3 separate regions of the Homo sapiens genome follow, and all the other regions are linked to region 1. The links come from fine-mapping of genetic effects on gene expression. A gene starts in region 1. Each other region holds a variant in brackets. All regions are shown on one strand. Distances are from middle to middle. Region 1 holds the start of CPNE4 (copine 4). Region 2 has its middle 31 kb from the start of ACP3. Region 3 overlaps CPNE4 (copine 4).

Region 1 (7,266 bases):
CACACGCTTTTTCAGTCATTAATAGAAAGTTGTCCAGGTAAGTTTCTGATGGTATATCAGTTAGAAATAATATTTAGCTATTTGTAATAAAAAGCTGAAAACAGTAGCTTGAATCAATGGAAGACTTTATTTTTCTCCTAATACAGCTGACAATAATGTTGTTGCCTTTATGATATCAAAGCCCCAGGTTCCTTTTATCTTTCTGCTTAACCTGCCTTGGCAAATGCTTGCTGCTTCATAGTCACATGATGGCTGACTTACTGTAACCTTCAGGTAGAAAGAAAGGAAGAGGTAAAGAGATAAAGGTACATCCCAGCTGATTCAGTATCTCCTTCTCTTTGAAAACTCTCACAGAAACTGCCCTATAACTTCTACTGACATCTCATCTCAATGGCTAGATCAGTGCTATATAACAAAACTTTCTGCAATGATAGAAATGTTCTATATCTGAACTATCCAAGATGTTAGCTACTAGCCACTTATGACTGTTTAGCATTTAAAATGTCACTTGTGGAACTGACAAAATCAACTTTTAATTTTACTTGATTTTAATAAATTTAAATTTAAATAGATACATGTGTCTAGTGGCTACCACAATAAATAGTGCAGGGCTAGACCTTAATCACATCACTACCCCATCTGCAAGAAAAGCTGGAAAATGAAGGTTTGGAGCTAAACACGTTGCTACCCTCCACAAAATTATGTTTTTCTTAGTAAGGAAAAACAAACAAAAATGAATATAGGCTGGGCAGATAACAGCCTCTGCAACCAAGGGATATTTGCTTGCTAATATTCCTTAAGCCCAGAGGAATGGAGTGCTAATGGGTTTATCATAGGCATGAAAAATGGTGTGTCTGGGAAGATATTATGTAGTTAAAAAGCAGAATCTTGGAGCTGGAGTTCAATCCAAATACTTTCTTTTTACAATGAGAAAACTGAGGCTCAGAGGGACAACTGAGAGACCTCATTAATAGAGCAATAGGAAAATCTGCTCTGAAATTATACAGAGCTATTTAGTGGCCTTTATAACATCACTCATGATAAAATGTAAAATCTCAGAAAGAAAATGCCCTCTGCCTATGGTTTTTAAAATACAGGAAAGAAAAGCTAGAGATTTTGATGCCACCTATTGGTAGACAGAAGTATAAACTGCCCTTTCGTAGCACAGGTTGTTACCCAATGTTAGAGGCACCACAGGTGGTATAGGGTTCTCATAAAAAGGAATGACAGACAGTGGAATATTTAATTCCTGCATCAGCTTGCAACATGTATGTTCATTTTCCCTTGACTCTTAGCATCTTAGAAAAAGTGCTTTCTTAGAGTGTTCCTTTCTGCTTTCCAGTAATACATCACACCTCAGGCATATACAGAAACACCAGAGGAAGACATATCAGTCAGTTCTCAAAAATCACTTGAAATAGAAAAAAAGAACAAATTTTTGAGCTATAAATAGCCCTGGGGTGAGATTCAAAGTTCTTATATGATCCACAGCCTCAAAAATATATCCTGTTATTTACAACAGTTTCCTTTAGTAGTTCTTACAGAAAAAAAAAAAAAAGAAAGAAAATAAAAGGAAACAGAAATTCCATTTCAAAACTAAATGCTCACCCTGACTCATTCAGGGAAGGATCCAAGGTTTTTGATGCAGGGCACTGACTCTCTGCCTGTTTTTCCCCTTCATCATCTGCTCCCCTTAAAAAATGGTATCAACTGCATTGGTAAGAATCCACATTTCTTCCCTTTTGTTCCCTGGCTTCATTCCAGGATTTCACTTGTCACACTGATGGGTGAGATGCCTTTCATATTGGCATAAGACACTGAGCGGATGCCTCCTCTTATCTTATCAAACAGAAACCCGGCGAGTGAATCTACCCAGAGCTGAAGCTTCCTTTGCAACTTGGGAACACCAGGGCCACAGTGACTTTGTGGCTTGGCTTTAGATAAATTTGACCATGGCTGTAGAACCCAGCAGCTCAGAATCCATTAAAAGGAGAGCTGGGAGGAGGTGAGTGATAGAGACAAGGGGATTTTGATGTTACAATTGTTGAGGGGACTGTGGCTGGCGGGCAACTTGCTGTGGGGGCAGTGATTGAAAACATGGATTATTAGCTGGTTACAAATCTTCATTTGTACAGATGAGCTGTTGATTTCATATAAGAGGTGGAAGTAAATTCTGCTTTATGTGCCCTGTAAAAAGCTTCTTTGAATTTACCTTCAGTGTCATGCCTTCAGAAAAAAATTCCAAGTTTCTGGCATAAAGCTGCACGTTTTCTGCGCACTGGCATGCAGGCAACTGTTTGTTTCTAATTACGGAGCTGAAGCCTGCTGGCAAAGGAAACCATATTTGTCACAAGTTGTGGCATTGTGTTTAGTTTGTGTATCTATGCTTTTAACATGTAGGGCCAAAGATAACTATGTTGTTTTTCTTTTTCCCTATGAGCATTGACTCTATAACTTCTTTTCTATGGTCCATGTGTTCACTTATTCTAGCTGCCCCTTTAGAGACTGCTTCAATGAACAACCCCTATCCTCCCATTAACTAGTTGTGTTCCCTGGTCTGGTCATTTCAACCGCCCACACCCTGGATTTATTTTTGTAGATATAGTAAAACTTTCTTGGGCAGGTTGTTGTAAAAATTAAATGGGATGGTAAGTAGAGTGCCTAACAGATTGCCTGGAAATAGTACATGCTCAGCACATCTTAATTCCTTTTCTCTCACCTGTAATATAAGAAGTTTATGTTGAATGGTCCCTAAGGTATTTATATTATTTTTAATTTTATAAATGTAGAAGGTGGTAGACACCTTTCTAGGCATTGGGGTTATAATTATGAACAAGACGACAAAACAGACATATCCCTTGCCTTCATAGAAATTAAATTTTAGAGGATACAATTAACATGCAAGGAAATGCACAATGACTTTTCCTTCTTCTTCCTTCATCTTTGCAAGTTCAATCCAATTCAAATTTTGAGTTTATCTCTGAGGCTACCTCTTAACAAAACCTGGAAGTAATGTTTTTGGACTTAACATTTTCATATTTAGTAGTCATACACTGGTTTTGCCTGCTTAGCATCCGTCTCCCCTTTCCTGGTAGGAGGACCCTGAATATCCCTTGGAGAATTGTCCCTGTGTCTCACTCGCAATGTGTGTAGATCAGGTGGGGCTCCATCCTGGCTCCAGGAGTGCTATAGAAGACATCACATGCTCCTAGACATTGTGGAAGTCCTGGCCCATTAGTGTAATTCCATATCCAAAGGTCACAACGATTGACTTATGCATAGCCATGTGACCCAAGTTTTTGCAATCAAAGCAAATCCAAGGATTTCTGTGGTAGTTTCAGTGTACAGAGAAGCTCCCTGAGGTCCTTTCCAGGGTCCATGTTTAGTGTTATCCTATTTCAGAAAGGCTTTAGAGGTGACTGAAAGAAGAAAAATGTTATTTGTGTTCTGTCAGAAGGTTGTCCCTTTGTTTATCAAAGATATTTCTGTCTACTTCTATAGAACAATTAAGAGGGGGTCTTCCTCCTTACCCTATTGGTTCTCCTTTTCTGGACTTTGAAATTGAGAACTTCATGGTTAGTGAAAAGATTTTGGCTAATATCTCCTCCAACCTTCAGGTTGGAGAGGCTTTGTTAGATAGCCCCTTAATAGGGTGAGAAGGAAGACCTTCCATCTCCCCTCCACGTTAGATGTAACACACTCTATACCATCCCAATGTCAGAAAGAGACCGTCATTCACTTTACTTCATTAATTCCAAAGTCCAATTTGTGAGTCTGACAATACCAATGTGCAGAGAGAATTTAGTTGTCTAGTTTGTCTATGGTAGCAGACATAATCAGAAACAATGCCCTGTATTTGAATAAGTTCATTTGTCTGAATTTGAATAAGTTTGAAATAGGAAGGCCATACTTTCTCTCTAAAGTGCTTTAAAACATGTGGAAGTGGTCACCCCTTACATAAGACAGCATATTTATATCTATCTTTAAGCATAAGTACTCCCTAAGTATTTCTTTATCTTATTTGTGAGGTAGATGTATTCAGAAACTCATCATGAGATGAAGAAAATACTCTTTGTCCATTAATTTACTCATGCATTACTTACTAAAAATAATTTCCAGGCTCCTGCCATACGCCAGACAGTTTTGTAGACACGAAGGATCCAGAGATTAGCAACACCTTTACCATTTTTGGTGACAGTTAAGCACCCATCTAAGAAGTTTTCTTTGGTGAGTGCCAAAAAGTGTAACTCCCATTCCCCCCACACCCGCGCCGCGATACGACCGCTCCACCCTAGAGTGGAGATGGAGACCAAGCACTTGGAGATCTAAATCAAGTGTCCCCAGGAGCTCAGTTGAGCGACAAAGCTGAGCAGAAAGCCCAGACTGCGGGCGCGGCAGGACCACGGAGAGCGCCGCCGCCAAGGCCTGGGCGGGGCCTGAGCTCGGGTTCCCGGGGCAATGCTCGTCTCCGTCAGCAACCCCCAGGGGGCGCTCGCGCGGAGGTTTCGGAACCAGTCTCTTGCCGGGTTGCTGGGTGCATGGGATTCGTCAGAAGGTGGAAATCTCTCTGTGAGAAGCTGCCATCTCCCCGCCACCCGCTCGTCCCCTTCTCTTTCTGCCACCCTCCTTTCCTTCCTCCCTCGCTCCACTCCACTCCCTCCCTCTTTTCTCAGTACCCTCCTCTTTACTCTCCGAGTTAACTGAGAGCCGACCTGACATCTCCAACATTTTCACCCTCTTCCCCCACCCCCATCACCGAGAATGGAGTCAGGGTTTCCGGAGAGACCGAACTCTGCTCTCAGCACCTTTCCCAGCCGCTGTTGCTAAACTGACCTCGGAGGACGAGAGGGGAAGGAGGTGCGACGCCCCTTACATCAGTACAAAACTACCACACCAACCACCTCCACTTCAAAGCCGGATTTTGCATCCTGGGGGCGGGACAGACCTCGTCCCGGGCTGAATTCTCTCTCCACTCTTCGAGATTGGCACACCCAGGTAAGTAAATGCCAACTCTTCATTCCTGTGTTCCTGGGGCGCTGTGATTGCAAAGTCTGTTGGAGCTGCTGCGTAGCAAGACCAACTTTTGAGATGCACTGGTTCTCGCTCACCTTTGCACGTTTGTCATTGCTGTTGTTGTTTTAAAAAGCAGCAGCAAGCAACGTCTTTAATCTGAAGGGACTTCCATCCCCTACCTCTCGCCTTCTGACATCCACCCAACTCGCCCAGGTGGGGTGGGGCGAATGGAGTTGGGGAGAAAGACCGCGGAGGGGAGGGGACAGCATGGCACGGGTGAGGGATAGGTCAGGGAAGTCCCGAAGGCGGAAGAAGGGGTACGGTTTTCAAAATCGGGGAAGGGGAGGGGAAGGGAGTTCTGGCTGAAGTTGCAGCTTCCTCTCTGACAGTGAGAAAGCTGTGGGACATTGTAGTCCCTTCCAATGGCTTGACCTGGCTGCGGTTGGATTCAGCCTCTCAACCTCCTCCCCCACACTTCTTACAATGAGGTTCTAATAATATTTTAGTTGCCTCTTCTCAGTGTTAAAAACTAATGAATAGGCTTGCAAGTGCTTTGATTCAACGTAGTCCTTCAGCGCTTCTTCCTCTATGGAATAAAGTAGCCAGAAGGAAAGGGGGACGGGGACAGGGGACGGGACTGGAGGGACCACTGAAACCAAGCCACAGCTGAGTAAGGAGATCACGACCCCGCGTGGTATCACAGACACACGAGAACTGTTAGGGCTGAATCCAATGGAGATAATTAGGAGGTGGTCCACGCCAAGTCAAGCGAGTGCTGATTACCATCCGGTGAGGAGCAGGCTAAACCCTGATGAAAAATGCTCCTCCTTCATCTTGGAGTAGGTGGGCTTTAAGGCCCTATTTCCCATTCTATGTTCCAAATCTGACGGCGCCCCAGGGCGCCTTGGCGGATTGCCTTTCAGCCCCAGAACCTGCTAGGCTCCAGGGAAAGTCACAGGCGGCAGAGATGATCCAAGGGGCGCAAATCTATGAAGGGCTTGATGTGGGTGGTTGGGAAGTGGAGGGGGGAAAGGTGAGCAGAGTGAGGCGGGAGGGGGCTAGGGAAGCGAGAGTGCTCTGGGAAGCTTTGCAAGAGAGACATCTGAGAACCTCTCCCTCTACACACACACACACACACACACAGACACACACACACACTCACACACTCTCACAGGATTTCAGTGACTTGTGGGAAAAGATGCCTCAGCACCTTTACACCCTGTGTTCAAAACTATGCAAAACCAACTCTTCATCCTCTTGCTGCTTTGCCAGGGATTTTAAAAGCACTGTTCTGGTTTTTCTTGGCTCACTTGGTTTTGTTTCCTGAACAGCACTTTTGAGCTGTCCAAGATACTTTAATATGTTATCTTTAAATGAAACTAAATCCTGCTCATTCGCGCGCCCCCGCGCGCACACATACACAGGCGTACACAATTACCTTAACTTCAAATAAAGTGTTCTTTTCTCCATACTCTTCTATTCCCTTAACAATCCCTGTTCTCAAAGGCCTTTGTGTTTTATTTTCTGCTTTATAACAAAACAAAAAAACAAACACCCACCGTCCTATGACACAGGTGTTTTGAATCCATGTCAATTTTTGTAGTTAGTATATGCTGGTTAAACCACATAGCATATCCCCCAAAAAGCCAGAGGCAAGCAAAAACTTAATTTGATGCCCTTCAAGTTTCGGAAGGTCCCATTTCTTTTTATTAACCAAAAGATAAGATGAAGCTCAGCATGGCTATGGCTGTGATTAGATAACTTCTGATATTTTCATTTCCCTTACCGAGCTGCTGCTTCTAGGCTGAACTCATTCACCTGCCCATTTTTAAAGAGAGACTGACAAAGTCACTCTGGCAGGTCAGGACTCAGAGTTAGTCAAAAGTTCTCACATGTAGAGAGGTGCATAAAATAGAGGGAGGGTTGGAAAATGCAGTCAGAACACCTGTGTTAATAGTGCATACTAATAAAGGCCAACATTTTCTCAACTATCTCTCATGGGAAGATTCTTATGGTTTTAGAGGATCAAACTCAAAACACATCAGAATGAGGTGACTTTTCCATTAACATTACATAAAAGGATATATTGGTCTATAGCAATAGTAGATGTTTAATCCTGGGCAGTTTTGTATGATTGTGTGAGAAGAGATTGCCTATAATTGAACCAAACCTCTACTTATGTGTTAACAAGTAAAAACTCCCATGGCCATCAAACTTATGCCTTTCCTGTGAGTGGTCAACCTTATTTTTATT
Region 2 (7,266 bases), 250 kb before region 1:
CAAAAAATGTTCAGGCCTGGTACCCCTGCCATGCTTAGTCATCTGGAGCTACCAGAAAAGAATGTGGCCTCAGGTCAAACACTAGAGTAGATCCCAAAGGCACTGCAGCTGGAGGATGTCAGCTAACTGCTCTCCTTGGAATTTATGGGCAAGTTTGTTTTTGAAAGCATATCTGAGGATCACACCTCCCTGGTTGTTTCTGTGAAGGGCATTTTTTATATTCTTGGCTTGGCATTGATGGGAGGAACAGTGGGGTCTCAGTCTAGGTAATGGGCTCCTGACCAGAGTCCCCTTCTCAGCCTCCAATGTTGGAACTTTCTTTGAAGCCTGTTGTCCACTATAGTATTCAGGATTCCTTTGGAGGCAAGTAACAGAAATCTAATCTAATCTGATTCATTTTAGGCAAGGAAAATAATTTTTTGCTTCATGTTACTGAACAAAAGAAAGGGAAAAGATCAGTGGGAACTTGGAATAAAACTGCCACTGACGTTCATCTATTCCATTCTTCTTTGCTCCCTGTTTGGCTTCAATTTTGTAAACTATGTATCTTTCCAATTGAAGCTAGGGCCAAGGCTGCTCTAAGCTTCACCTAAGAAGAAAGAGCTCTTCTCCTTCAATTTCAGTTGAAAAAACCTGGTTTTTATTTCCATGCCTATTGCCTCATATTCATTCATCCAAAAAAATATTTATGGAGTGCCTATATGTGTCGGGCACTGTTCAAGGTTCTTACAATGCTGAAGTGAACAAAATAGACAAGTTTCTTTTTAAAATGAAATATATTTTAGCAGAGAGAGATAGTAAACGAGTAACCAAATAAATAAACAGGATAATTTCAGATAATGATGAAACCATCCCTATAGACTTCAGAAAGTTAATCAGAGTAGAAAAGAGGGGGAGAAATAAAAATAAAGCAAGATCGCAGCACATTCACCATTAATCATGAGGTCAGCTTACTCTCTGACCTGCCTACTAAGAGTTATTCACTGCCTGTTACCCCAGAATCACACAGACCTGTCACCACTTAACTGTTCTGTAGATAACAACTTAAACATTGTGAAATGTTGTTTTCCATTTGAGATATTCTTTCAGGTCCTGCATACCAGTGAAACTATTGATGTCAACTGGTCTGAGGGACCTCACTGAGGCCCCATGAAAAGCTGACTTAACAAAGAATGCAATTTCCACATCCTGATTATTTCATTACGCTTACCTGACCAATTAATGACCTCAATTTTCTAGGCCCTTGCCCTCCATGATCCCCTTAAAAACCCCAGCGCAGAACATCTTGGGGAGATGGATTTGAGTCTCCTCCTATCTTTTCACTTGACCACTCTGCAATCATTAAACTCTTTCTCTGCTGCAAACCCTGTTGTCTCAGCCTATCAGTCTGATACTGCACAGCGGACATACAAACCCATTGGTCCTGTAACAGTGAGAACTACAGTGAAGACAATAAAATAAGGTGACATGACTGTGAGTGACTTGAGGTGGGGGATACTTTAGATGAGTGGTCAGAGAGGGTTTCTATGAGGTGACATTTGAGGTGAGACTTGAATGCAGGAAAGGGGAGAGCCATCAGAGCATCCCAGGAAGTGTAAAAACCCTGAGGCAGGGAGTGAGATTGTGGTCTCAGAGGAAAGAAAAAAGGCCAGAGTGACTGAAGAATTGTAAAAATGGGAAAGGGCAGGAGCAGACAAGGTCAGAGAGGTAGGAAGGTGTTGAATCACCCAGGATCTTGTTGAGGCCATGGTGAGGAGTTTGGATTTATTCAAAATGCAATGGGAAGCCAAATGGGGAGTTCTAATCAGGGGAGTGATATGCATTAAAAATTCTGTGGCTGCTTGTGAAGAATGAATTATGGAGAAGCAAAAAAGGGAATGAGAACAGCCAGGAGGCTACTGTAGTGGCCCAGGAAACAGATGATTGTAGCTTGGATCAGGGTGGATTTGGGGAAGTCAAAAGAAGTGAATGGACGAGAAAAATACATACTAGTATTGGATATGAGATGTGAGGGAGAAGGGTGAGAAAAGGAAAAAAGGAAAATAGCTCAGAGCAGTCTGAGCTATGTGAGATATGCAGAATTTATCAGGCTCAGAGAAACATGAGTATGGGACTTCAGTCACCTTCTCCGCTATGTCTGGGACAATTGTTTAAAGGTATTTTGTTCTTGACTAGCTGCTACATCCATTTTCTTCCTGTTTTTGTGATACAAAGAACAATATATAGCCAATCATTAGCTTATGTTATTTTAATGTAAATTCTTGGTAAACAACTTAGGAACTGCCTCTTCTTTTACTCCTTAAAACTTCAACTAGTAACTGCTACTAATCAGGGTGTATATTTATGGCAACTTGAATCTATGCCCCCATGTGGCCATCCTCAAGCTTTGGACTCCTATAAACTCTATACTTAATTTTTCTGGTCCTCATTATTTAAGGCTAACGGGAGAATCAAGGGGCACTCCTAGGCATTGGGCTTCAGAAATTGGGTGAATGGCAACAAAAGTGTCAGACACAGATGATGAAGCTTCAGAGAGACACAGGTTTATCTTATTCATTTAAGACATACTTTTATATCTCTTACTATCCTGGTTCTCAACCTTAGCCTCACACTGAAGTTACCTTAGAATTAAAAAAATAGGCTGCGTGCAGTAGCTCATGCCTGTAATGTTAGCACTTAGGAAGGCTGAGGTGTGAGGATAGCTTCAGCCCAGAAGTTCAAGATCAGCCTGGGCAACATGGTGGAAGCCCCATCTCTACAAAAAATAAACAAAGGTAGCTGGGTGTGGTGACTTTCCCCTATCTATAGTCCCAGCTACTCAGGAGGCTGAGGTGGGAGGATGGCTTGAACCCAAGATGGCTGCAGTGAGCCATGATTGTGCTGTTCTTGGATCTCACGCAAGAATTTGAGGCATATCCATAAAGTGAAAACAAGTTTATTGAGAAAGTAAAGAAGCAAAAGAATGGCTACTCCATAGGCACAGCAGCCCCAAGGGCTGCTGGTTGCCGATTTTTATGTTTATTGATTATATGCTAAACGAGGGGCGAATTATTCATGAGTTTTCCAGAAAAGGGGTGGGCAATTCCTAGAACTGACAATTCCTCCCCTTTTTAGACCATATAGGGTAACTTCTTGAAATTGCCATGGCATTTATAGACTGTCATGGCACTGCTGGGCATATCTTTTAGCATGATAATGCATTATAGTTAGTGCATATAATTAATGTACATGTCTTTGTGACCTGTACTTTGTGCCAACCTTTTATCTGATCCTGTGACTTAGAATGCCTAATCTCCTGGGAACGCAGCCCAGTAGGTCTCAGCCTTATTTTACCCAGCCCCTTTTCAAGATGGAGTTGCTCTGGTTCAAAGGCCTCTGACAATGCCACTGCACTCCAGCCTGGCTGATAGGGCAAGAGCCTGTCTCAAAACAAAATAACAACAATAAAACCCTGTGCCTAATTAGTTATTAGAGAATTTTTTGGAGATTTTAATTTAATTGCTATGGTATATGGGCTGGATATCAAGATTTTTAAAAGCCACAAGTGATTCTAATATGCCTTAAAATTTGAGAAGCACTGACTCATTACCTGGCTGGTTCTGTTTCAAATGCTTTACAGGTGTTAATTCGTTTAATTCTCATAACAATCATGAAAGTTGATCATAAGAATTGGGTCATTCTTGTCACTCACAACTAAAACAGAGTTGAGAAGCCAGGGGGAACAAGCACGCAGGGTACAACATTGCTGAAAGAATGTAATTCTCTGCAAGCCCAAACTGCTTGTTGTAACCTGAAACCAGTTTTATCTCATCTTCTGAGATAACGTGCTGCAAAGGCTAGCACTAATTGTGCCCACAGCCACCATTCACCAGTTGAAGCTTTCTGACTCCCTAAATTCTTTCTTATGCCAATGAACTTTCTCAAAGAAGAATACATAACATTTCTCCTTTTTTATAAAACTGATATCGGAATAGGGCAGGGAAGTGCTGGGCGGAGAAGGGCGGGTCCCTGGCGAGGGCTCCACCCCCAGGCCTGTGCCCACGGACCTAGGTGAGGACAGGCATTTGTTTTCAGGTCCAAATGTTACATTTCCCAAGACCACCCTGGCCCACCATGCCCCCATCCCCCCATCCTGTGCCTATAAAAACCCTGAGACCCTAGTGGGCAGACACACCAGCGGCTGGACATTGAGAGGATCACAGCAGTGGAAAAAGACACAAGCACCTAGCCGTTGAGAGGAACGCACTGGCCTAAGAACATACTGACAGACGCCGGTAGGCCAGCAGG[G/C]CGGCAGGCCATCAACCCGCGGAAGGACACGGACTTTGGCCAGGGCGGTATAAGGTAAGCCCCGCTGCTGGGCGGCCTGGCTCCAGGGGAAAGCAACCTTCCATTCCATCTCCCTTCTGGCTCCCCCATCTACTGAGAGCTACTTCCACTCAATAAACCTTGCACTCATTCTCCAAGCCTACGTGTGATCTGATTCTTCTGGTACACCAGGGCAAGAAACCCCATGATACAGAAAGCCCTCTGTCCCTGCGATAAGGCAGGGTGTCTGATTGAGCTGACTAGCACAAGCCGCCTACGGACGGCTAAACTGAAAGAGCACCCTGTAACACAGGCCCACTGGGGCTTCAGCTGTAAACATTAACCCCTAGACACTGCTATGGGGTCGGAGCCTCACAACCCGACCGTCTGTCTGTATGCTCCCCCTAGAGGTGTGAGCAGCGGGGCACTGAAGAAGCGCGCCACACCCCCGTCACACGCCCTGCGAGGGGAATAAGGGAACTTTTCTCGTTTCAAAACTGCTAAGCCGTTCTTTGCTATTCGGACATACCCGAAGACCACCAGGTCTGTATGTATGGCCCAAATTGCAATTCTTTCTTCCCAAATAAAATATTAAATTTATGGATTCATCTCTACATGTTTATTTTGACTTTGATATAATTATATGAGAAAGGTACTATTATTAACTCTCATTTTATAGTTGAGGAAATTAAGGCTCAGAAAGATTAAGTTGCTCGTCTAAGGTCACATGACAGAAACGGAGCAGGGATCCCTCTTAGGGCCCCCCTCCCCCCCTTGCCAAGCATGGAAATAGAGGAAAATATTGAGTTCCTTCCGGGGAAATTCTAGGCAGTGAACTAGCCGCCTCACTAGCCCTGAGAAGTAAATAAGCAACTTGATAAGCAAGAAGATAATAGTAGCTGAAAACAATAGCCAAGGTAGTTAGAGTCCTGAGATGTTTGGTTCCCTATAGAAACTAAAGACAACATCTCAACATATGTCCCTGAGCTACTTTTCAGAAACACAGACCCCAGCCAAATGGATCCACTGGCATGTAGACCTCAGATAAGGGGCGATTGAGAACTGAACTCTGACTGCCGTTCTTTTTTCTAAACTTCTTCCTTAGGAGCCTAAAGGACGTCATACCCATGGGCCAGACCTAACATTCCTTTCTGCTGATCCCAAGTTTTTAGACAAAGTTTCCCTTCCTTAACCAATTGCGAATCAGAAAATCCTCGAATCCACCAATGACCTGTAAGTTCCTGCTTCAATATATACTGTCTTTTTAGGCCAAATCAATATATAACCTCCACATATGCCTTAAAATTCTGCCTGTAACTTCTACTTCCCTGAAATTTATCCCTGCTTTTAAAAACTCTTGCTTGTAAGCTATTGCGAAGGTTGGCTCTTACAGTGTGAGCTGCCTGATTCTCCTTGCTTGGTGCCCTGCAGATAAATGCCTTCTTTTCCCCCCTGCTGCAAAACCTTGGTGTAGATGTTTGGCTTTACTGCACTGAGTGAGCAGACCCTGGTTTGGTTTGGTAACATGACTTAAAAATTACAAAGAAAAGGAACAGGAACACAGCTCTCTGGTCCTCTGGTATTTAGAGCTGAAACAGAGGAGGAGGGGCCTGAAAACATGAAGGCAGAACTTAGAAGGGAAACAGGAGAGTGTAGTGTTGCAGAAGCTTGGTGGAGAGAGTATTTCAATGAGGAAGTGGTCAGCTTTTTTGAAAGCCCTGAGTGTTTGCTGAAGAAAGACAGAGACAGAGAAGTGACCACTGGATTTGGCAAGATGAGGTCGTGTTGAGTCTGATGGGAACAGTGCCTGTGGAGTGGTGGAGATGGAAGTACAATCACAACTGATTGAAAAAGGAGTGGGAGCTGAAGATGTAAAAGTAGTAACCACCAAGAACTCTTTGGGAAAAATTAGCTAAGAAAGGGAGCTGAAAACTGGGAGGGGGATGGAGGAGATTTGAAGTTGTGTGTGTATTCAAGTATTAATTTTGTATGATGATAAATAAAGAGTACAGAGGTGGGCACATCAGCTCATGCCCATAATACTGGCGCTTTGGTAGGTCAAGCCAGGAGGATTGATTGAGCCCAAGATTTGGAGGCCAGCCTGGGCAACATAGCAAGACCCTGTTCCTAAATTTTTTTTTTTTTAAATTAGCCAAGCATGGTGGTGTATGCCTATAGTCTCAGCTACTCTGGAGACTGAGGCAGAAGAGGATCACTTGAGCCCAGGAGTTGGAGACCAGCCTGGGCAATATAGCAAGACCTTGCCTTTTAAAAAGTGGGGGAAAAAAAAAAAAAAGGAAGGCATTTTGTTCCTGACTACCTGCCTCACCCATTACTTTCATGTTCCTGGAATTTTTGATATGAAGAACAATGTATAGCCTATCAGTAGCTTATGTGATTTTAATATAAAATACTTGGTAAGCAACTTAGGAACTGCTTCTTCTTTTTCTTTAGAAACCTACTTGTAACTGTAGCTAATCAGAGCATATATTCAGGGCAACTTAAATCTATGTTCACAAGTTGCAGTCTTCAAACTTGGTCCAAATAAAATCTCTACTTACGTTAAGTTGGCCTCAATTTTTTCCTTTAGGTTGACATTCCTTTGATCTTTTAATATGTTGAATTTTTAAATTTCTTCATTGAATCCTTGATCATTTTGCATTTTTTTTAATAGATGTTTTCTTTTTCCATTATTTTATTTTGGATTTTTAAATAGTGTTCATAAAATATTGGTCTATAGTTTTCTGTGTTATTATTTTCAGATTTTGGTGTCAAAGTTATACTGGTTTTGTAAATACTGATTGAATAGCCTTTTTCCCTTATGCTTTGGAACTATTTTAATAACACTGGCAAGCTTTGTTCCTTGTAGATTTGACCGAAGTTGATTGAAGCCCTCTGTGAAATTGTCTGAATTTAGTGTTTTTAAAAGGGTAACCATTTGATCACTTTCTCAGTTTCTTT
Region 3 (7,266 bases), 110 kb after region 1:
CTTTTAGCAATCTCAAAATGACGAGAGGAAGGAATCCACAGGTTTTGAGAGTGAAACTTCTTTATGAAGATGAATTCACAGAAAAATTCAATGTGAAGAGAAAAATCTTGCAATCAGTGCTTGTGCCTGAAAAACAGGATCTGTCCTGACTTAAGCTGTGCTTCAAGGTTGCTACTAACAAGGTTACAGTACCATTTGGAAAAACCAAAGAAGAGGTGGGAGCTGAAGGAGAACAGAGAGCATGTTGCATTTGTGATCCTGCTGTTTGAGCCCCAGGGACATATAAGTCACCAAGTCATTCCATCAGCTGGTTGATAACACTCACGTTTACACTGATTAGTTTAGGGGTTTAATTTCCTTTATAGCCAAAAAGTATAGTTTATGTCACCATTGTTTCTATTACATCCTTTCTAGGGACTGAAAATACTATTACTGGTCTAGACACACCTCTATACTAGTGGTTTTCAAATTTTGATGCATATTAGAATAGCCTAAGGAATTTTTAAAAATATCAACATTCAAGCCTTACTCTATTTAAATTAGAATATCTGAGATAAAACACAGGTGCCAGCATTTTTTTTAAAAGATCTCCAAGTGATTCCTGGGTGCAGCAAAGTTTTGGAACCACTGCTATACACATTTCAAGATAATTTAGTATTTTCTTTACATTCTAGATCCTTTCACTCTCCTGTTTGGTAATTTTTGTGATTTACATTAAATCATTTCTATGATGATGTCTATGATATTTGGTGAAGTGCTTGAGCTAAGTTCACGGCTGAATTGAGTGGTATGACTCAGTTTCTGCTTCTCTTGCCTTATCCCTCCCACTCCTTCTTCACTGATAAGGTTGGAAGTTGGGATGGGGGATGAAGATGAATACCTATCCAGGGAAGGAAACAAATAAGGACTTAGCAGCTGTAAGGGAGACAAGATATGTCATGTGGCTATCGTTAGCTATACTTCTGATGAGAAGAGTACAGGACTTTTGTTCTTTCACTGTCCTTGATGAGTCCCCAGGGGACACGTAATGTCTGGAAGACCCTGCAAGTAGCCACTATCACAAGGTGAACCACTGACCAAAATCTCTCTTGAGTCTCCTGTTCTGTTGAATTAAGCTGGGCCACGTAAGAGTCAGGAGGGTCCCTTTGGTCTTTTGGATTCAGAGAAGAATAAGGCAGCCACTGGCCCCTTGGTCCCTTTAGTCTCTCATTCTGGGTCTTACTTTTGGTGGAGAGAGGAGGATTAGAAAGAAAACCTTGGGGTGGTATGGGAGTCATTTTACTTAGGGCCTGGGGCTTAGCTGACATGAGCCACTAGCCCACATGAGGCATCTTTTACCCCAGACCCCTCTTTGGTTCTGTTGGATTTTTTTTTCTATTTTTTTTTAATTTTTTTTTTTTTTTTTTTTTTTTTGAGACGGAGTCTAGCTCTGTCACCCAGGCTGGAATGCAGTGGCATAATCTCGGCTCACTGCAGCCTCCACCTCTCAGGCTCAAGTGATTCTCCTGCCTTGGCCTCCCAAGTAGGTGGTACTATAGGCATGCATCACCATGCCCAGCTAATTTTTGTATTTTTAGTAGAGACAGGATTTCACCATATTGGCCAGGCTGGTCTCAAACTCCTGACCTCAAGTGACCCACCCACCTTGGCCTCCCAAAGTGCTGGAAATACAGGCGTGAGCCACTGCGCCCAGCCAGTTCTGTTGGATTTTCTGCACATCCCCTGCCTCTCACAGGCCTTATAGTCCCTGCTCCACATTCTCAGAACTAGTGAGATCTCTCTGCACAGTGCAAGAGTCCTGAGGGAGCAGATAGAATGTTTGGTGACAATATTTTATACATACATACACACAAACACACATTTTTGCCTCTGTTTCTTTGGTAATACTATCAGCACAAAAGAGGACTACGATAAAGCAAAAGTTATTTGTAGCAGGCTTTTTCATTGAACTAAACTCTGACTTTCAAGTAAAAATAAAGTTAATTCATTTTTAAACCTCCCATGAGCTAATTTCTTTACAGAACTTGCCAAAGAGTCCCACATGTTCAATGAACTGGTCCAACTTATAATTAAACCTATTTGTTTTAAAGGTTTTGGCCCAAACCAAAATATACAAACAACTTTTAACATGAACCATTTTAATTTACAGTCTTGATCTATAATAATTATTTATCTTTAAATCATAGTTCTTTCAAATTATCTGAGCTTTAAGTGTGGGCACTTGGGCATTTGCTATTAATATATTCTAGACCACAGGACAGGAGACATAGAAACAGACATAACACTTTTAGAGGATACACTATATTTGTTATTATGCTTGCTTCTTTTATGTCTATTCTCTCCTCTAATTCTCACAATAGTCTTGGGAGGTAGCTATTACTATCTTTCTTTTTAGAATAAGAAAACAGAGGAACAGAGAAGTTATGTCACAACTAGAGAATGTTTAACAAATTAATGCCCGTGAATTTCCAAAGCACTTTCAACCATATGTTATGTAGCACCCAAATGATACTCATCCATTTGAGCATCTCATGCCCTCCAGATGCAGCATGCTGTTTCCATGTTTTCACCATTCTTTGATAACTGGTCATACAGATGGGCATTTCCTGTCTTCTTTTCTTAGCCTCTCCAAATTTAGATCAGGCTCTTGGCTTTAGCTTAAGACCTGTCTCTCTTAGTTTATGGATGAGGTAGTGATGATTCTGTGTAAAGCCACTAAACCAGTTCTGGCATGAAGAAGGCTGCTTGTGTTCTTCACAATAGCGAAGGCATGGAATCAACCTAGGTGCCCATCAACAGCGGATTGGATAAAGAAAGTGTGGTACATATACACCATGGAATACTACACAGCCATATAAAAGAACAAAATCATATCCTTTGTAGCAACATGAATGCAGCTGGAGGCCATTATCCTGAGTGAATTAATGTAGGAACAGAAAACCTTATACCACATGTTCTCACTTGTAAATGGAAGGTAAACACTGGGTACTCATGTACGTAAAGATGGCAACAATAGAAACTGGAGACTACTAGTTGGGGGCAAGGGTTGAATAACTGACTATTAAGTACTATGCTCAGAATGTGGGTGGGTGATGAGATCCATCACACTCCGAACCTTAGCATCATACAATATGCCCCGGTAACAGACCTGCACATGTGCCCCCTGAATCTAAAATAAAAGTTGAAATTATATCAAAAAGAGCCTGCTTGATAAATATTACCTCTCTTCTCTCTTCTCTCTAGTTTGGACCAAAGCATGTCTATCTTCTCTGGGCTTTGTGATCACTGACTTGGTCTTTGCTAATTACTTTGACGATTCATCATGTATCTACTTGCAGAACTCTCTTTTATATTAACCCTAGTAACATAATGATTGTTTAGCACTTACTCTATGCTCTATATCTGCATTGTTGCTCACTGAATCCTCACAACAGTGCTAAGGTGAATCCTGTTATTAGTTCTATTCTGCAGATGAGGAAACCAAAGTACACCTTGCCTATCATTATGGTTAGTAAACCATGGAGGTAGAAAATGAACTCAGGATATCTGATTAAAAAAGCCTATACATTTACATATCATACTCTAGTTCCTTCCTTGAATAAATATTTCATGTACTTGATCACTCTGAAAGTTTTTCAAAGGCAGTGACCACGTTTTGTTATTTCAGAGCTCCTCATGGCACACGATCAAGTATTGGGCATATGGTAGGCGCTAGGTAATCAATAAGTTGAATTTTAGGGGTCTTAGGGATAAAGAGAGAGTATCTATGACTATGAACATCTCTTTCCAGTTATCTGTGAAACTTATTTGCTACTTGGACTGTTCACCTCCAGTGAAATAGACAAACACTAAGACTGGAGTCTGAGAGACCTGAGAGTTAAAGAACGTACTCTGGTGTTCTAATCCAGTTGGTGGTGGAAGTAGGAATAGTTTGGTGCTTTTTGCCCAGAAGTGACATCATTTCTTCTTGGGGGAAGTGAGTTTCTGAGATGCAGAGGCAAAGTTGTCACTCTTGTCACCCACCCTTTGGTGCCACCCAGTAAGTGTCAACTGTGTGGGAGCAATGTTGTCAGCCCATCAGGTGTGGACAGGAGGCCTTTGTTCTGCTCAACAGCTTAACTTCTGGTTATGCCATACCACTGTAAGGATACCAGACCATCAGACATCTTCTTTAGCTTCAGCCATTTACCATGTAAATCTGTCTTTGAGGCAGTATCAGTGACAAGCTCAATTTGCGGAGAGGGAGGAAGGAGAATCGAGGAGCAGTGCCCTTCTAGATGAAATGCTTGGAGTCTTACACCCATGAACATTTGGTTCTGAGATTTGACAAACAAATGATGAACATTTGTT[T/C]CAGAACATTTGGTTCTGAGATGACACCATAGATCATATTTGTTATATTTCTAGGTCAACTGACATTTTAAGGGCCTAGTTCCTGGTTCCGGAGATTTTTTTTCTTATCAGCATCTGAAGCCACTGATTTTTTTTTTTGTATTTAAAATGTTTTTATTATAGAAAATTTCAAAATAATAACCACTGACTTTAAAATACCCCCACACCCAAGATATCTGTCATCAGTTGATTTAGGAGGCTCCACTTCCAGTCTGTCCTGCCTTGAATATTTGTCAAACAGTCCTTGATCCTTAGCCACTAGGACTTTGCAGACATGTAAACTAATAGCTATAGCATGTAAGTGATAATTAGTGTGAGAGAAAGCTAAACCAGAACTGTAGGAACACAAATTAAGGAGTGACTAACAAAGGTAAGGGGGAGGTCGTGAAAATTTTGTCAAGGGATTAAAATTGGGCCAGGAAGAGAAATAAACGAGTAAAAATGTTTTCATGTTAATAAATCTACATATAATTCCATAGGCCTTCTAGGACTTGAAAGTACGAGAAGGAAAATGAGAATAGAGCAATTTACAGTGTCTGGAGAATAGTGGGCCTGATCAATAAAGGTAGGAAAAATCAGTGATTCTAGGCTAAGAAATGTAGGCTTTGGCCTGCAGCATTTATGAATCCACAGAAGGATGTTGGGCAGCGGAGTGACCTGATCAGATTTGAGTTTAACAATTTGCCAAACATCCCTAAGCAACTCACACCTGCTGACTGCAATGAGGAATAAATTACAATGGATCCAGGCTGGGGAGAATGAGAGAAGTGACTCTGACTCATTTGAGGTTTGTTTCCTTAGCTTTTGCCTTATCTCTATTACTGCTTTCTTTTAATTAAATTTTGTCTATTTTAAAAAATTCATATATTCACTGATTCACTTGCTTATTATAGTTTTCTTTATAAGTATCACCTAGTTCGATGTTAAAGATAATCTAAAAGGGTGTTGGTCCTTTAGTAAGAGAATTTTACCTCTTCATGATCAATAACATATTATATAGGTTGACGCTATTTCTGCCACCTATTATTTACTTTTTAAGTAAAATTTTATCTGAGTACAACAAACATACAGAATAGTGCACACATTGTAAATATACAGCTGGGTGAATTTTACAAAGCAAACCCTCCTAAATCAAGATGTAGTTTATTTCTGCACTCCAGAAGCCTTCTTGTATCCCTCCCATCATTGCATTCACAAAAGGTAACCATTGTTCTGCCTTTATCATTTGGCCTGGTTTTCAACTTCACAAAATTGGGATCATACAGCATGTACTGTTTTGTATTTAGCCTATTTTGTTTAACATTATGTCTAGATTTATCCATATTGGCACGTGTATCAAACTGTCCTCCATTTTCATTGCTATATGGCATTCCATCTTATGAATTGACCACGATCTAGTTATTCCCCATCCTTTTCTTAGGCTGCATGTTGCTGTTGTTATTTCTAATTTACTCATTCAGGATTGGAAAGAAATCTATCCAGCTGGCATTTACCAGTGGACAGATTAAGTGGAGTCTCATCAATCCTCTTCACTATTCACTTAGTGCTAGCATTTGCTACTTCTCAGTTGACTATCTGAAGGTCACCTTGATATACCTGACTTAAGTTGCTGAATCCAGCAGGCATTTATTTAGAGTAGACCTTCCAGGCTAGAGCTGGAACTCTGACTTAACCACAAGCTCAGCACCCAGTGTAGTACATGAAAGACAGCACCTCCTACACTGCACTGTTTCCTGGGCATTCTCACTTCGGCTCCCTACAACACTTTTCATAGTAAATAAAATATTCCCAAATGCAATATGCCTCTACCTGTTATTCTTTAGCCTCTAGCATTTTAAAAATGCTTTTTCTTCTCTGTTAATCATTTGTCTTCTAATGTGTTTCATGTGTCTTCTAATGTGTTTTTGTGATTAAATAATTTTGGGAAATATTATACACCATATCTCCTTTTTGGAGATTCACAGTGCAAATTAACATAGTAATGGCTCTAAAATGTCCTGTTACAAAAAAACTGTTTTATGTTATAAAGTCTACCATTGTTCCTTTTAAGATTATCTATTAGCACCTCATAGAATAACAGTTCCCTAGCACACAGCTCTGTAGAAAACAGCCAGAGGAAACTCCACGTGTGGTTTTTTTTGCTTATTTGTTATTTGTTTTTTCCTTTCCGGTATGATTGTCAGCTTCTGAGTCTGTCTATGGCTATTTTAATGGAAATATGGCAGAGAACAAGCAAACTTAATCTTTTCTAAATATTTGTTTGCCTGTTCATTTCTCCATCAGCCTGGAAACTCCATGAAGATAGAAACCTTGTCTTTTCATCTTTGTATCTGCCAGTACCTACCATGGTTCTCAGCACATACTCGAAGTATTAAATAAATATTTTGTGTCTAAATGAGCGTGATATCACATTCTGGGACTTCCAGCATTAAGGGACTCAAACTGAACTGTAAAATGAACCTAGATCTTGAGGTATGTAAGGGGAGGAAGAATAACATTATACACAAAATCCTGCACTTTTGAGTTTAAAAAATCTGACTGAATTCTGCTTCCTCCATTTTTGGGTTGTGCAATCTAGCAATTTATTTAGATTTTCTGAATCTCAATTTTCTCATTTGTAAAATGGAAACAATATCAACAGCTACCTTCCATAACTCTTGAAAGGATTAAATTTGATCGTATTATGGGAAGCACTGGGACAGACACATAATTACCCAAAAATGCTTGTCCATGAGTATTACTCTTGCCTGTGAGTATTCTACATCTGGTGCTTGTTTCTCTGGTCTCTCTCTACCCACCCTGGGAACTGCATGTTTTCTTGTACTGGAGTTCTTTTCACATTCAGTGAGAACTAGAAATCCACAGAATTCTCAGCTG

Evidence for each region.
Region 2: its variant is fine-mapped to the expression of CPNE4 in lung (TOPMed, PIP above 0.99). The same link has a PIP of 0.9 or more in testis.
Region 3: its variant is fine-mapped to the expression of CPNE4 in adrenal gland (GTEx, PIP above 0.99).

What each region holds. Positions count from the first base shown.
Region 1 is chr3:132,032,296-132,039,561 of GRCh38, reverse strand. CPNE4 (copine 4) reads left to right here and starts at 4,548. Exons shown (of 16, transcript NM_130808.3): 1 at 4,548-4,995. RefSeq lists a silencer at 4,324-4,423 and an enhancer at 4,799-4,968.
Region 2 is chr3:132,282,315-132,289,580 of GRCh38, reverse strand. No RefSeq gene overlaps it. Among named protein-coding and RNA genes, the nearest start is that of ACP3, 31 kb to the left of the region's middle. The variant G/C (reference allele first, on the strand shown) is at 4,288.
Region 3 is chr3:131,917,852-131,925,117 of GRCh38, reverse strand. All of the region lies in intron 1 of CPNE4 (copine 4), which reads left to right. Among named protein-coding and RNA genes, the nearest start is that of MIR5704, 64 kb to the left of the region's middle. The variant T/C (reference allele first, on the strand shown) is at 4,351.